4 linked regions of the Homo sapiens genome follow. The protein of the gene in region 3 purifies or fractionates together with the protein of the main gene of each other region. This does not show direct contact. Each region holds a gene or a part of one and is shown on either strand. Other genes may lie near its edges.

Region 1 (3,759 bases), on a different chromosome or scaffold from region 3:
AGGGTCCATGTTCCTTCCACGAGGTCTCCCGGACACCCCGAGCCCGCCCTGCGAACCTGGCACGATGAAGTGAACCATCACGTCCTGGCGCCAGGCCAGGCGCAGTGGCCGGCAGAGCTCGGGGCGGCCGTCGGGGCGCACGGAGGCGGCGGGAGCGGGTTCGGGACTTTCTCCGTCTGCATCCCCTACGCGGGCTCCCGGCAGCCGCAGGAAGACGTACTCGGACAGTCGCAGGCGGCCGCCCCCGCGCTCCTGCAGCTCCAGCTCCAGCAGGAAGCGACTCCCTCGCGCCGAGTCCCGGCGCTTCTCCACGTTCACGATGCGCAGAAGCGCGAAGCGCCTGCAAGGCTCAGCGGTCAGCCGGTACTGGGGCTTCCAGCCTGCACCCCGCCCGCAACCCTGGTCCGCCCTGGCCACAGAAACTCAGCCGACTTGGAGTTGGCGGAGGCTGCGGGCTCCGCGGCACAGCACCTGCCCCTCCAGGTTGGCCCAGCAGGCAGGTCCACCTTCCAGCCACCCCCTCCAGGGTCGGGGCAGGACTGGGGGCACACCAGCGAGCCCAGGCCCATCCTCACCTCCTCGCGGGCCTCCTGGCCACCACTCACGTCCCAGGTGACGTTTATGACATGCCCGCCTGTCCTGTTACCCCCTTGCTCAGAAACCTTCAGGAGTTAGCCACCGCCCATAGGACAAGGTTCCAAGGGGCTTTTGTGGCATTCTAGGACCTTAAGCAGTTTTGATTTTGTGGCTTTCAACCTTCCCCTCATACTGGGGTAGCAGACTCCTCCTCAGGCACAGCCACTGTCTCCTCTCCTTTGTCCTGAGGAGTCCCCTGCCTGGGATGTTTGCCCCAGTCCTCCCAGCCACTCCTCTTCCAGGCCCTGGGTCACCTCTTCTGAGAAGCCCCCAATCGTGCCTTCACAGCACCCCTTTCCCCCAGGCAGCAGTTCCGCTCCTGTCCTGATCCCTGAGTGGAGGAGGCTGCTTCCATGCTGGGAGCCCGTTCCTGGCCCCTTCCTCCTCATTCCACTCGGCCAAGAACCTCAGTTTCCCTCCACTCTGCTCTCCTCATCTGGAGAAAACAGGACCCTGCCCTAGACGATGGTTTCTCTTCAGTCGGCCTCACGTCCTCCCTTGGCAGTCTGTGCCTTTCACTGGGGGACGCCCACCTGTGTGACAGCTGAGGGTCCAAGGCCTCCCTCCAACTCCTGTCCTTCCCCACCCCAAAGCCCTGAGTGTCAGGGACCTCCTGCCCCAAATGCTCTTGGTCTCTCTACACTGTTGCTCCTTGAGCCATACCCAGGTGGGCATTGGTGGGGCCACAACCATGATCTTCCCATGAGGCCCCCAAGAAATGACGAGCTGCTCTCAGGAAGCTTAGAGCCGGGGCAGGCGTGCCCTCTGAGCCACCTAGAATCCAGCACCCACCGCCCAGGGCTCCAGGCTGTCAGTCACCACCACCACCTTCCCTTCCCCTCCAGGCAGAGGCATACCTGTCTGCACCCAAACCGGTGGAATTCCTGCTCTGCTCGCAACCTTCCATCATGCACACAAGAAACAGTCACATGCAGCTGTGCCTCCATCCTCTGCCCCTGCCTTTGCTCTGCTCGCAACCTTCCATCACACACATGAGAAACAGTCCTGGCCCTGTCTCCATCCTCTGCCCCTGGCTTTGCTCTGCTCGCAACCTTCCATCACGCACAGGAGAAACAGTCCCGGTTCTGCCTCCATCCTCTGCCCCTGCCTCTGCCTGTCATCACTGTGCAACTCCTAACTCGCCTTCAAGGCTGGGCACAGCAGACACTGCCTCTTCTTAGAACTCCACAGGCCTCCCCAAGGCCAAATTAGACTCCCCACTCCTGCCCACCAGCCTGCAGGGAGGGCAGACAGCACTAGATTCCTGGGGCCTCAGGGAGACCAGAGGGGCCAATGGGGCAGAAGCCCTGCACCTTCCTCTGCAGTCGGGTCCTGACAGTCTGGGAACGCCCAGGGGCACTGCGAGGGGAGAGGAGGAGGGGCCCAGGGGTCTTGAGCTTTGCCCTAAGGGTCTCTGCCTGGCCCCCCCGGAATGGGGCTGTCTGCGCAGCAACTGGATGCGACTGACGCTGATCTCTGCAGCTTGGACTCATCCCTGGGCCCAGGTCCAGGATGACAGAAGTGGGGTACACAGGTGCAAGGATGGGGCGCCAGCCCTGGGTGGGGCTCCAGGGAGGTCCCTGAGGCTGGACAAGTGCCCGGGCAGTCAGGACGCCAGGAAGGAAGGAGAGAAGCTGGGGCTTCCCTGGGGTGGGGCGCGGTGCCTCAGCCCCCAGGCCGGTACACCACTGGGCCCTGGGGAAGGTCTGAGGAGTCCGCCAAGGCCAGGACCTCCTCTCCCCGGCTGTCCCCGCCTCCAAAACCGCCCTGGCGCGCGTTCGGCCGCCCCCATACCCGCCGTGGCGCGCGTTCAGCCGCTCCATGTACTGAGCGGTCACGTCCACGGCCTCCGCCTCCGGCAGCTGCAGGTTCCCCGAAACGTTGCATCGCAGGTCGTTCCAGTCCGAGCGCAGCAGCTCGAAGTCCACGGCGCCCACGCTGAACGTGCGCTGCCAGTCGATGGCGTCCTCACGCCAGCGTCCGAGCGCCGGGCCCGCGGCCTCCTCGCTGTCCTCCGACGCGGCCTCGTCGCCCGGGGCCCCATCGTCCTCCCCTTCCTCCTCCTCTTCGCCCTCCCCGGGCAGCTGCGGCCCGGACACCTGGGACAAGCTCAGGAAGGAGGTCACGGGCCGCGCTTCGGAGGACAAGTTTGAGTCCACTGTGGGCGCCGCAGGTCCCAGCGTGCGCGCCTGGCCCTCCCGGCCCCCTTGGGTGGCCTGCGCCCGGGCTGGGGGCCTCGGCTGTGTGGCCTGGGGGCCGCCGGTCCTGCGGCCGTGGGGCCGGGGTGGGCGTGGGGGCGCCCGCAGCTGCACTCTGGGCAGAGGCCTGGGGTGCAGGAAGACGCCAGGGAAGGGCGGCCAGGGCGCACGCGGCGCTGGGGCCCGGGGGGATGCCCGCTGTCCCGGCCGCACCCTGGTCACGTACACCTTTGGGGGCGGCTGCTCCACTGCAGGGCGCGGGGGCGGAGCTCGGCCCAAGAAGAGCGGCAAAGGGCGGGCGGCCCTGGCGGCCCAGCTCAGGGCCCGGGAGTGCCTGGGGGTCCCCCCGTCCCGGGGGCGGGGAGGGGTCGGCGGGGCGAGGGTGGCTCCGGGCTGGGCGGGGGCTGCTGGGGCGGGGGACTGGGGGCCGCTCCTGGGCGGGGCCGCCTCGGTGGGCTCCAGGCTGTCGAGCAGCTCCCCCTCGTCCTCGTCGTCCAGGAAGTCTGCGGGAAACGCGGGTTAGAAGCTCCCTGCGCAGGTGGGTGCGGGCCAGGGGCGCTGCGGACACTCACCGTCCGGGTTGAGGAAGAGGAAGGCTCGGCGCTGCACCTCGTCTTCTTCATCCTCATCCCCCTCCTCCTTGTCCATCTTCATGTATTTATAGAACCCAAACCTGGGGCGCGGCGGGGCATCAGAGCCGAGTCCCGCCCCGCCCACCCCGCCCCGCATTAGCCCGGCCGCGCGCCCACCTCTCCAGATACAGCGGAGACTCGCGGTAGAAGCACTTGTTGTCCGTCTCCATGTGGGTGAGGCGAGTGTAGTCGTTGGGATAAACGAAGGACAGGTACACCTGGGGGGTGGGGGGGCGCAGGGCTCAGGGCGCGGACCTCCCGGGGCGGCCTCCCAAGGGGCTGGAGAAGGCTCC
Region 2 (3,759 bases), on a different chromosome or scaffold from region 3:
TTCTGTGCTAAGGCAATCACCAGTACACCCTTCCATTGTATACCACCCGCTCCTCCTTACAAGTAACATGGCCCGCATCCCAGGGTGCTTAGAATGCCTGAGCTAGAGAGGATGTTAGGAGCACCAAGCCCAACCCCACACTGTTAACAGGTGGCAAAACTGCGGCCCAGGAAAAGGGACAAGCCCAAGGTAAGCAGGCTATTTAGGAGTAGAGGTGAGACTAGGAGGCAGGTTCTCTAGATTTCAAATCTGGTGTTCTTTTTCTTAAGGGCATACCTCCTTCCTGTACTTCATGATGTTCATATCCTCAGTAATATGTTTAATGATAAGAATATGCTTAGCAAACATTGCTAACTATCTAGGATGCAAGAAGACAATCAGCTGGGAAAATAGGGAAAGAAGGTGAAGTTCCTGCCTTGGGATGAGGTTCCTGTGATCAGCACAGTTTCCATGTAAAGATTTGAGGGCTGTAAACCTAAGCTGTAACCTCAGTGGCTGCATGAAACCTGTAAGCACTGTTGAGTCCCAGATAGTCAGAGCTCAGAAGAGTTCATAGAGATGATCTAGTCCAACCCCCTCATTTCACAATTGGGAAGATTAAAGCCCAGAGAGGGGCAGTGACTTGACCAAGGTCTCATGGTTACGAGCTAACAAGGCTATCTGCCATCTGGCTCCAGAGCTCAGCTTCCTAACAAGTGCCTTGGAGTGACTCCACCTGCATGGGCTCTTGGACAAGGCAGCCCCATGCCCCCTCCCTACCCATCCCTTTATGCAGCCTTAGCAGCTCCCTCTCCAGCAGGCAGAAGGGCTGGGTCTGGCTGGTGCTTAGACACACACCCCAGTTCCAACCCACTTTGCCTCCCTTAGCCAGGACTCTTCTGGCAAAAACCCAAAAACCTTCCCGGAGCCAGGGTGATGACATTACCTACCTTCATCTGCTTGATGGTGTAGACCAGCGTGCCGAAGGGCCCCTCCTTTACCAGCTTCTTCCCCACCACCTTGGCCCGGATCACTGCAGAGACAGAAGGAGACAATAAGAGGTTAGGAAGGCCTGAACCACATCAGGAACAGCATCTCAGGGCGGGCACGCTAGCCTCTGTGGAGCCTGGAATTGCACTCTTACCTTGGAGCCAACTGGAATAGATGATTGTGTTTACAAGAGTGGGAATTCCCTGGGGTGAGAGGGAGGTTGGAGGAAAAAGAAACAGCCACCATTCAAGTTAATTACCCCAAATATTCACAATTGCCAGCTCCAGAACTTCCAAGGCTATAGTCAACCCCCGCCGACCCTGAGGATTTTCTTGACTTTGTGACTTTACCATAATCCAAAACCTACTTCTCCTGTTAGAGCCATTGTCCCCCCTCCCTTGTCCATCTGACAATGCCATGGTCTCCCAGATCTGTTCTCTTTCCACTAGGACCCCTTTCTAACCACCTCATTTGGGGCTCTTCCTTTGCATGCATTAATTCACCACATCTTGACATGTCTACAGGGTTGTGGTGCACCCTAGCTTCCCACAGTGCCCCCAGTTAGCATTCTGATTGAGCCCTTGGTATCCAGTGCTTAGATAGCAAGGGATGCAATAGAGTCTGAGCTCTATGGGGATGTGGTTAGAAGAAGGAGCAATTGGGAGTCGGGGCTCAGGAGCCAGACAGAACTGTTCCAATCTCAGCTCTGCTGTTTATGGCTATTGCGACTGTATGCAAGTAAGTAACTTTGTTTCTGGCCTCCTCTTCTATAAAACAGGAATCATAATGATACTAATCTCTTGAACTGAAGGGATTAGTCAAGATGACAAATGTGAAACTCTTGATACTGTCTTGGACATAGTTTGCACTAGACAAATATTATTAATATCATCATCATTATCATCACCAAAAATGAAATGGGCTAACCATGGAAGGGCTGTTCCAATGAAAACAGCTCCCATTTATTGCACACCTACTATGTGCCATGTACATTTCACTTATTTACTGCTCTTAACTGTCTTACAAGGGCAGTATTAGCATCCACATGATCTAGATAAGGTAACAGACCAAGAAGTGAAACCACTTCCTCTTTCTGAGCCTCAATTTTCTCATCTATAAAGAGGGTATAACTCTCTTTACATCAGGGAATTGGAATCAGGATTGAACGAAAGATCTTATGAAATTTCCCACTACAATGTCTGGCAGAAAGGATTTACCCAGTAGATACTAGTTAACTATGAATACAAAAGTAATTACACCCAGTGGGTTGAGGGCTGAAAGAGAGGCATTTACCACATGCACTGGGAACAGAAAGAGGAGAGGACTTGACTTTTAGATTCTACAAGGTTGTGCTTCTCTTTCTACGTTGTGTGAAAAAGAAGCACCCAAGAGCTGTCTTCAGGTATTTGTAAAATTGGCACATGGAGGAGCAAATGGACAGGTCTTGAATACCAAAACTGGAAATTGCAGAGAGTAACATTCATTGGCTCAACCAAAGAAAAAAATCGTCTAATAATAAGAACCAGCAACAAAAGGCAGGGGGGCTGCCATTAGGGCAGAGAGTGCCTCTATCAGGGGGTGTGATGAGGGTGCTGGATACTTCCATGCTAAGACCTCAACAGGAATTGGAATGGGGCTTGCTTATGCAGTCATACTTTGAATTACAAATTGAACTCCTTCAGCCCTGAGATCCTATCAATCTTTCTTATCTCAAGTTGCACTTAGCCCAAAAAGGAGTAGATACTCAATAAATGCTTGTTAAGTAAAATACCCTTCACACACACAAACACAAACACACACACACACATTTTGGTAGCTCCATTATCCTTCCTCATTGTGGATGCTCCACTATGTATCCCAGTTATTTGACTCTAATCTCTGTTTTTAAAAAATCTTTACTAAGAACTGATTCCTCATCCATACTGGATTCTGTCTTGTTTCTTTCCAAATGAGCTTGGATCCTACCCTTGCAGTCAGACATGAAGTCAGGGTTCAGATGAATCAATGGCCCCTTCAGACCTTCCCTGCCGGCGATGGCAAAACACACAGTCATTGGCAAAGTGAGCAATTTAGCGGAGGCAGCTCAAATTAGGAGGAGGCGAGTGGTTGTTTCCAAGTCTGCTGTAAAAACGAGAGGTTGGCAAGATCCCAGGCCAATGTCTGTCAAGATCCTGCATCCACCTCTGTTTCTAACATTGCGGTAGTATTCTCGGCGACAAGCCAGCCTCCCGGAGGCCCCGGGGACTGTTTCCTCCATATTAACTCTCACAGGCAGGTTATAACAGCTTCACCTCCGTGCAGAGGCATGTCTGCCAGCCTTTACCACTGATTCTTCCTGAAATGATTTGGACCCATCTTCTCTGCCTCATTAACACAGAAGGTAAACAAGGGAGCGAGTCTTGGCCGGGGGGTGTGGGAGGGGCAAGGCAAAAGGGATTCCTTTAAATAGCAACATCCTGGTTCAAAAATGGCTTGACTTGATTTAGACAGAAGATGTCACAAGCAGACCTGCCCCATAAAGCTGAGTACTGCTGGAAGCTTCTGCACATACAACCAGCCAACTCCTTCCTTACCCCAAATAGCCTGAGCTTGGAACCTTTTCATCTGAGGATAGTTCAGTGAAAAGAATACGTTTTTGTAGTCAGGAAGCTGCATTGAAGTTTGGGTTCCACCATTACTGTATGATCTCTCTGGGGCTCTTTCCTCCTGAATCTCTCTGGCTTTCTTAGCCCAGTGCCTCTCATGTGGCTAACAAGTGATTTGCTTATTACTATTGGAGCAGCAACATAG
Region 3 (5,530 bases):
GATTAATCTAGAATTGGTTAAATTCTAAATGGTTTATGAAATGTTTACTTCATGGGTTTATAAGCATGGTAATTGTTAGAATTTTTAATGATAAGATTGAGTTTTAACAAAATCTGCGAAGGACAAAGTAATTGGTTAAAAAAATAATTTGGACATCACAGATGGCCAGATAAGATTGTTTGCCCAGAAATAATTTTGTCAATTTGTCTCTGACAAACAATTGCTTTCTTACTTCTTTTGGATAGCTACTCACATACTAAAACTAGAATAGTGCCACATATACACTGCCTTGTACAATGAGACCTTAAGGGATATGTAATCCTCACGGTACAAGTTTTCATAATTTTTTAAATTAGTTGGGACACAGAATTAATATCAAAATTATTTACCTCACTCGATGAACTGATGCTGGATTCCATCTTCTAAAAGAAAGAAATCTAGTGTTAATTATCCCCTGGGATTTTTAGAATTTGAAGGAAACTAGTTCCATGTCATCATGGTGAAATGCTTACCATGGTAACATTATAACTGAATAAGTGGTATGGAAAAATTCAGGCGTACTACATTGTATTTTCTTGGAGTGTGAATTTTACTTGAAAAATTATGGTGGTAGGTTTAATAACTTATCTGGGAACATAAAAACTTAAAAACAATTGTTTTTAATTTAGGAAAACAAACACAAGTTTATCATTGAGTAGAATGCAAAATTTGCATAGATTTTTGTGACAAAAATGAAACCTCTAAGAAAGAACCATATTTAGCTGGGTACCCAGAACCCTGGGTTAAACATCTGTTCTCATCTGTCCTTGGGGCTTCTTTGATGTGAATAAAATGGAAACATTAAATACAATGCACAATCTTAAGATGAAATTAAAATTACATTAGATTTTAAAATATTTACTTTGAAATATTTACTTTTTCTTCAAAGTCATTTATGTTTATATTTATATATACATATAATTTTACTTTCCAAATACATACATATTTTAACAGATTAATTTTAATATTCAACAGACTTTATCTCTGGGGATGGTTGATTAACCATATGTAATAAGTCAGCATTTAAAAAAATATAATTGTAGAGTAGGTAGTATAGCTCACTGATCCTAGGTAATTGCTGCCATAGATTCTTTCTGCCCAAGGAGAGGGAGAGGGGCGTGGGTTGACAAACTATTAAGTTGGTGCAAAAGTAATTGAGGTTTTTGCCATTACGCTGTAAAAACTGCAATTACTTTTGCACCAACCTAATAGTATTGCCATTATTTTTAATGGTAAAAAGCACAATAACTTTTGCACCAACCTATACCTGTTGGGTAGTATGCTCACTACCTGTGTCTAACATACTCATGTAAAAATCTTACATACATACATGCACTTGTATCTAAAATAAAAAAGTAATCTCATGCCCTGGGATGTCAGAGTCAGTGTTCTGTGGGACTCTCATTTTAAACATCCATGCACCTTTTGTTTTTATTTTATATTTTAATGAATAAGCATTTTTTTACTAATTATTATTTAAATGGCTTAAATTCCGTCTTCCAATTTCAACTTTATCTAGCACAACATTGTACATTCTTGAGTATAATATTCCTGTTTGAGAAGTTCAATAAGTTAAAATTAGAATAGGATTAATTTAAAATTAAAATGTTAACATTTTAAAATTCAGTTTCTTATTTTGCTTAATTTCAGAAGACAGTCTTTTTAAAATGAAGCATGCTGCATATACTATGTTTGATACGTAAGTGTAGAGTTCACTAGAATGAATGGGTCTTACCTCAGGCTCTGCCACAACACAGTTCTTAAGAAAGAAAAAATAATCAATTTCATTTTTCATGACAAATAGTCAAATACAAAAGTAATGATTACCAAATAAAATGGATGTCAAAGAAAATAGAAAACTGAGACAATATAAAAGTAATAAGAAAAACTAAAAAAACTGCCTACTTTATCTCTGAGCCAAATGAATCTGCATTTTGAAGTTTAAATAAAACGTTTCGGATTCTTCTATATTGTAGCAAATCAGTGAAAACAAGTTTACATTTTCCTTTATCCAGCATGACTTTTTGCTTTCCCTCTTTTAAAACTTGGCTTCTGGACTCTGAGCAGGACACTGCACTGAAGCTCATGCAGTAAATACAACTGGACTAAAGGAGAGCACTGATTTAATGGTGTGTAAATACCTAAGCAAAAGAACTTGCTCCATCTAGTATGTTTTGCTCAGTTTTCACGACTACAGCAATACAGAGATCAGTGACATTATCCATAGAATTTAAATTTAAAATATTTGTGTTGGTTTGGTTATTCTGGCCAATGTATGATACACTATTTCTTTTCTTTCTTTGAATTAGAGTTATCTGCCATAGTTTTTATTTAAAATAATAATTTATTTGGGGAAATATGTATTGTTTCTTTTCCTCATATTGGTTTAATAATTTTAAAACAAAGGGTCTCACCTGAGTAGACTCATTCCTAGTATCCTGCCAAGACAGTCAATCAGTTAGGTATGACAGATTGTTAAGAAGATATATATTTTATCTCATAAAGTTTGAGCACCTGCTCTCTCAATACCAATTCTACTAGAAAACTAGTAGACAATCCAAATCAAAGATGTTATGGTTAAAGAAAATAATTGAGTATGACTATGTAAATATTCTTGAGCCAGATATTGTATTACTTCATATAATACCCTTGATAAAGCATTCCTTTAATTTTGGTGATAAATGTGAATACATAATTGCATTTATTTGTTTATTTGTTATTTCATTCATTCACACTAATGCCTTGTTTCATCACAGTTGCACAATTAAGTCAATGAAATCATTTTCTTCAGAATTCTCAGCAGACTCCATTAGTCACTACAAATGTATGAGTGAAAAGTTCAAGGAAAGGACAAAACCATAGAAAAATGCTTTTTTTTCCTAAAGGAAAACTTTTTTTCTACTACAAGAATATATACTTTTGCCATACTCTTTCAAGAAAAACTTTGGTACCTTGATTTCATCAGTCTGTTTTTCTCTCAGAATGTTTCTCTGCTAAAATCAATAAAGTGTACCTTGTAAAATATGTTTTCATGAAAACAAACTTTTAACATAATTTAAATTTCATTGATGTTTCTTACCCTGTTCATACCATTCATGTATTCCTTAGGGATAAAAAAGAAAACATAAACAATATTAGTGAAACAAGACATACATGAGTGGAAATCTATGAGAAACTGTACTTCACATCGTGCTGATACAAATTTAAAAATAAATCCATTTTTCCTGAATGAACTAATATTCCTTATTATATCATTTCTAACCTTAAGTGGTCTTTCTCACTACACAATTAAGTCAATCAAATCAGTAGTCTTCAGAATTCTCAGCAGAATTCATTAGTGCTGATACAAATTTAAAAATAAATTTATTTTTCACAAATGAACTAATATTCCTTATTGTATCATTTCTAACCTTTAAGTGGTGTTTCCCTACTCCTTCTTTGTGTAAGGCTAGTATGTAAATGTGCATTTAACAATATTTTTAAGTTTGTTCCACTCAAATTTGTTATCCTTGACTTTCACTTTGTTTTAGGCACTGTTCTGAGTCTCCTGATCTTAACACTTACTTCTCTTTGTTAATTGCACGGTAAATTCTGTGGAGTCATTCTTACCTCTCTTGATTCTAATGGTATAGGCTACAAAAAAAAAAGTTATGTTAAAATTCATTCATAGTTGAGTTATCTATCAAATCATTTAGATAATGTCCTTGAATTAAAACGTTATGTTCTTCTATTCAACAATTAAGTCAAAAATTATAGAGAATGTGACACATATGTATTATTTATAGTTAAGAGCATTCTATTATAAGGAGTGAGGAAATTGTAAACCTCTACATACGTCACGGAAAGGAGAGCAGAGTGTTTTGGAGAGGCAAACGTTTAGGTACAAATTAAAATATAAAGCAGCTCTTTAACATATACATATCTTGTTTTTATATTCTTTCTGGGTGTTTGGATGACTGAATGAAGGGAAGGGTTGATTAACTTAGGTTAAACAACAACAACAACAAAAAACCACTTTGTTTTAAGGCAATTTCTTGCTCTGTTGCCCTTGTGCTATCACGACTCATTGCAGCTTTAACCGCCCATGCTCAAGTGACCCTCACACCTCAGCTTCCCAAGTAGCTGGAACCACAAGTGCATGCCGCCACATCCGACTATTTTTTTTTTTTTCAAAATTTTTTTTGTAGAGACGGGGTTTGGTTATGTTGCTTAGGCTCATCTCGAATTCCTGGGCTCAAGCAATCCTCCTGCCTCAGCCTCCCAAAGTGTTGGGATTACAGGTGTGAGCCACAGCACCCAGTGAAAAAAACATTTTTATAAACAAAAATTAAATAATTTTTCCCATAAAAGTATGTTTCTTCTTTTAAGAATAAGTGGATAACACTTACCAGAAGAAGCCTGAGAAACTTTCCTTCTTTGATAATTTCTTATTGAAATTAAATTGTGAATTATAAAAATAATAAAAACACCAAAAAACCACATTATTCTCATTTGAACACAAATGCTCCATTTAATTCGGTAAACCAACAGATTTCTTAGCTAGAAGAACAAATAATTAGTTTTAGTTTTATGATCTAATTTTACAATCTAAAGAACACCTACACCTTAATTAGTTCCTTCTTCACCAGGCCAGTAAATTTAATAAGTCTATGCTTACCAAAATGGCTAAGAAGTCAAATAGGAATTTCATCAAAACAGAATTTAGAGAGCAATCCAGGTACTTGAGTTGTTGGATGCATTTGAAGGGAAATAAAAATTGTAAAGAAGAAGACATTCAACATGCATGACAGCTAACTGAAAGAGAGCAAAAGGAAGAGAGAATCCTGACTCCCCATAAACAGAGCTTACCTCACTGCTCTCTGATGGATTCTGTAAAAAATAATAATTTTTAAATGGTATTATTCCAATTGCAGGACAGAATGTAGGATTAGTTGTGCTCATAGAAAGTTGTGGTAGAGGTAACTAATTCAAGATTCAACATATCAAATGAGACCAAACTGTAAATCACATGCTTGAATATGTGTAACATTGAAAAAAGCAAGAATACATTAAAATAAACATGTTAACACATTCTGTTTAATTAACTATTTCTCTGGAATAAAAATAAGATTTTTATTAACATAAATGTTTATCTAAGTCAGTGTGCCGTCCTCTAAGTTTTGTGAGAGCAAATACCATCTGACAGTGCTTGAACTAAAGAAATGATGCGTCAGCAAAAGTGAAGCAGGCTGTTTCATAGAGAAGGGAAGCGCACATTTGGAGTTTGTGCTTCACAATTAGAGTGAGTTCTTGGAATGCAGAATAGAATATTTACCTGAAGGCGTTCTGGGTATCTAAGAGGAAGTTTCTGTGAAAAACAATGCAAGAATTGTAAAACAAAAAGTAACTAAAATGACAATAACAATATAATAATACACATATAATACGATGATTTTTGACACTGCCATTTTCAAAAGGTATGTGTTTTAATAGCAATATTTGTCAGAGACCA
Region 4 (3,759 bases), about 63 Mb from region 3:
TCAAATACCACCTGAGGGCTGCATGATTTCTAGGTGGTGGGAACACAGTGTGGACCAGGACAGACAGTGCCCTGCTTTTATAGAGTAAGCAAGGGTGGGGAGTTTTATGCAGGGCGTGTGTGGCGCTGTAGGTGTGTTCCCCACAGACCCAGCCATGCTCAGGAGCCGTAACTGGCTTTTTTCTCTCTGCCTGCCCATGTCAAGGTCCGCCAGCTCCTGGAGGAAGGACGCCTGGAATTTGTCATCGGAGGCCAGGTCATGCATGACGAGGCTGTGACGCACCTTGATGACCAGATCCTGCAGCTCACAGGTTTGGCCACCCTACCCTGCACCCAGGGTCCCTCAGGACCTCCAGTGGGGCTGGGACATGGTATCAGAACCCCCAGGTTCTGAGCTCTGTCTGCCCCTCTTAGTGGGGTCGGGGACCTTAACCAGTGAAAGCAGTGATTTGCTAGTGCCATATTCATGCCTCACCAAGGAAGTTGAATGTAGGGGTTAAGAGCATGGATGCTAGAGTCAGATGGTCTCAATATATCCTGGCTCTGCCAATTCCCTCCTCTGTGACCCTGGAAAGGAATGTAACTTCAGTTTCCTCATAGATAAAATGAGTTTGATGGTAATACCTACCTCAAAGGGTTGTTGTGAGTATTAAATGGGATAATTCAAATAAAGCACTTTAGTAGGATGTGGGTTCCCTAGTAAATGCTCAGTAAGTGTTTGCTGCCTTCCATCACAATTACCACCTTCAGCACCATAATGACCATGACTACTACCATCACCACCACCACCACGATGACCATCACTACCACTACCATCACCACCACCACCACCATCACCATCACCACTACCACCATCACCACCATCACCACCACCATCACCATCACCACCACCACCACCATCACCATCACCAGCACCACCACCATCACCATCACCACTACCACCACCACCACCATCACCACCACCATCACCATCACCACCACCACCACCACCATCACCATCACCAGCACCACCACCATCACCATCACCACCACCACCACCACCATCACCACCACCACCCTTCACCACCATCACCACCACCACCATCACCACCACCATCACCATCACCACCACCATCACCACCACCACCACCATCACCACCACCACCACCACCACCATCACCATCACCACCACCATCACCATCACCACCACCACCACTACCCTTCACCATCACCACCACCACCATCACCATCACCACCACCATCACCACCACCCTTCACCATCACCACCACCCTTCACCACCACAATGACCATCACTACCACTACCATCACCACCACCATCATAACTACCATCACCACCACCCTTCACCACTGCTATGACCACCACTACCACTACCATTACTACCACTACCATCACCACCATCACCACTACCACCATCATCTTCACCACTACAATGACCATTACTACCACTACCATCACCACCACCCCCTAAACACTATCACCATGATCACCACCCATCACTGTCGCCACCACCATCACCACATCCATTACTACCATCCCCTCCACAATCATCATCACCACCACCATGACCATCTCCCTCACCATTGTGTCCACTGTCCTCAGCACCATCACCCACAGTGCCGTGGGGCACTCTACTCACCATTTACCAAATGCCTTTCACAGTGACACCCCAGCCAATCCTAATGGCGGGCTGATGGTGAGGCATGGTGATGCCCAGTTTCATTTTGCAGATGTAGAAACTGAGATCCAAAGAAATGCAGTAACTCTCTCCAGGGTAGATGGCCAGGACTTGAGTCCAGGCCTAGGGACTGAAGCTCCGAGTCCACAGTCACTCCACTACAGCATGGGCCCTGATTTCCCCATTTGTAAAACATCCAGGCAGAGAGCAATGTTGTCAAAGGATGTTTTTGGCACTCTCCCTTTTCTCATCTGTAATCTGGAGTGTTCCCCTGTCTCAGTTTCTTACTGCCTTACATCTGGACTTTGCTCAAACCCTAGACTTGCCCTTCCATGAGAAGGAGGCGTGATGGACACAGCCCTACAGACAGAGCTCCTCCTGTGGCCAGGAGCTCAGCCCCTGCTTGTCCCCCTGCATCCCCACAGGCCCAGAGGTAACAGGGGAGGACAGCAAGGCTCAGAGGGAGCACCTTGCCCTCAGCCGCCTGCTGTGGCTCCCTGACTCCAGAGCCCCTGCTCTTTCACTCCCCCATGTGAAGTGTGGGCAAGGGATCTATCCCAACAGACTTCCCCCACACCCCTTCACAAGCCCACTGCCAGGGAATGTGTGACACTGTAGGCGTGTCCCCCACCTGCCTCCTGCCCCGTGCCAGCGAGGAGGCTCTGGGGCTGTTTCTCACCTGTGCCATTTCACGCAGTGCTCCCCCTCATTCTCCACCCTCCTCCTCAAGATGCAGCTGAGAAGCCCCTCCCGCAGGAAATCTCTGAGTCTCTGCAGTTCTGTGTCACCTCCCCACTTAACCGCTGAACCTCAAGATGCCCCTGGCAGGGACCCCCATCTGACTCATCTCAGCACCCAGCATAGGGTCTGGCCCAGACCACTGCTTACTGGGCAAGGCTGGGCAAGGGGTGGGCGCTGAACTGCCCTGCCCTGAGGGTACCCACCACTGGGGTACCTCGCCTCTGGCCTCAGCCCACCGTGCCTAAGTGCTGATACCCCAGCGCTGACCCTGCAGGTCTGACCTGGCAACTGGAAGCCTCAGGGAAGCTGAGGCTGTGTCGCTCTGGGGCAGGAAGAGCCTCCAGAGACACAAGAGACAGCGGCTGTTGTGAGGCTCCATTTCCAAACCTGTCCAAGCTCATGGGGCCCTCAGGGTACAGACATGTGGGTTTCTTTCATGATAACCACCTTGTTCTAGGTACAAGATGTACACGTATTTTTTTTTCAGTCCTCAGGGCAATCTGGTAGATGGGTAATCTTACAAATGCTTATTTGTAGAGAAGTTTGAGGCTCAAATGCTATCCAAATGTGCCCACCACCAGCTAAGTGATGGGACCCAGATCCAACCCTAGCCCGGCCGAGTCAGGAAGGTTACTTGTGGCTGAGCCCCTCTCACTGGCGGCTGAGCCAAGCCCTTTCCCATCTGCTATCTCTTAGTTGCCTCAGAACAGCCTGGTAGCAAGTGGTACTGTTCACAGCCCCATTTGACAGATGAGGAAACTGAGGTACTGAGAGATGCGGGATTTATATATATGCAGTAGGTAACAGAACTGGCGCTCAAGCCCATGTGTGCCTGGCCTGGGCTCTTTCCTTAACTTGTAGTCCCTAGGGCGGGGGCAGAGTGTGTGTATCAGACCACCCATCTCAGATGTCCCAGGCATTCTGGCTGTGAATTATGTCCACATTGGGCTGGTTTTCTCAGATATGTTGGGGTAAGAGGGGCTGGATCACCCCTCACTGCTTCCGGGCCCTTTATCCTCCATCTCACCTTGGTGGAGCCCCTGCCTCGAGGCAGGCCCTGGACAGCAAAGGAAGACAGGAGCAGGCTGGTGCAGCCTCTAGACCTCTGACCTTCTTCTTCGGGTATCTAGGGTGCCAAAGCATCTCCTCAACCAAGACCCACTCCTGGCTGCCCGCCAGGGCCTGGGGCACTGGGCCTGCCCGTAAGCTCACCTTTCCAGCCTTTACCTCCCCAACTCCTGCTCCCGGCAGTCACGCCAACACCACCTTAATTTTAGATGTGACATTTCTAGTGAGGGGAAAAGCATTTGTTCCCAGCACTGCAGTGTCAGGGAAAGGCTGG

The links. The genes of interacting proteins can lie anywhere in the genome.
Region 1: the proteins of CSN1S1 (region 3) and B4GALNT4 purify together in Homo sapiens (affinity purification with mass spectrometry; one large-scale study listed by BioGRID and IntAct). This does not show direct contact.
Region 2: the proteins of CSN1S1 (region 3) and TIMP3 purify together in Homo sapiens (affinity purification with mass spectrometry; 2 studies listed by BioGRID and IntAct, with this or other methods). This does not show direct contact.
Region 4: the proteins of CSN1S1 (region 3) and MAN2B2 purify together in Homo sapiens (affinity purification with mass spectrometry; one large-scale study listed by BioGRID and IntAct). This does not show direct contact.

What each region holds. Positions count from the first base shown.
Region 1 is NC_000011.10:375,999-379,757, reverse strand, and holds part of B4GALNT4 (N-acetyl-beta-glucosaminyl-glycoprotein 4-beta-N-acetylgalactosaminyltransferase 1), read right to left. Parts: intron 3,685-3,759; coding exon 3,584-3,684; intron 3,508-3,583; coding exon 3,407-3,507; intron 3,338-3,406; coding exon 2,431-3,337; intron 341-2,430; coding exon 57-340; intron 1-56.
Region 2 is NC_000022.11:32,846,705-32,850,463, reverse strand, and holds part of TIMP3 (metalloproteinase inhibitor 3 precursor), read right to left. Parts: intron 1,013-3,759; coding exon 930-1,012; intron 1-929.
Region 3 is NC_000004.12:69,934,068-69,939,597, reverse strand, and holds part of CSN1S1 (alpha-S1-casein isoform 1 precursor), read right to left. Parts: intron 5,387-5,530; coding exon 5,354-5,386; intron 4,909-5,353; coding exon 4,888-4,908; intron 3,673-4,887; coding exon 3,649-3,672; intron 3,143-3,648; coding exon 3,119-3,142; intron 3,033-3,118; coding exon 2,991-3,032; intron 2,478-2,990; coding exon 2,454-2,477; intron 1,799-2,453; coding exon 1,775-1,798; intron 423-1,774; coding exon 390-422; intron 1-389. UniProt on the Homo sapiens protein: Important role in the capacity of milk to transport calcium phosphate. Casoxin D acts as opioid antagonist and has vasorelaxing activity mediated by bradykinin B1 receptors.
Region 4 is NC_000004.12:6,578,189-6,581,947, forward strand, and holds part of MAN2B2 (epididymis-specific alpha-mannosidase isoform 1 precursor), read left to right. Parts: intron 1-204; coding exon 205-310; intron 311-3,759.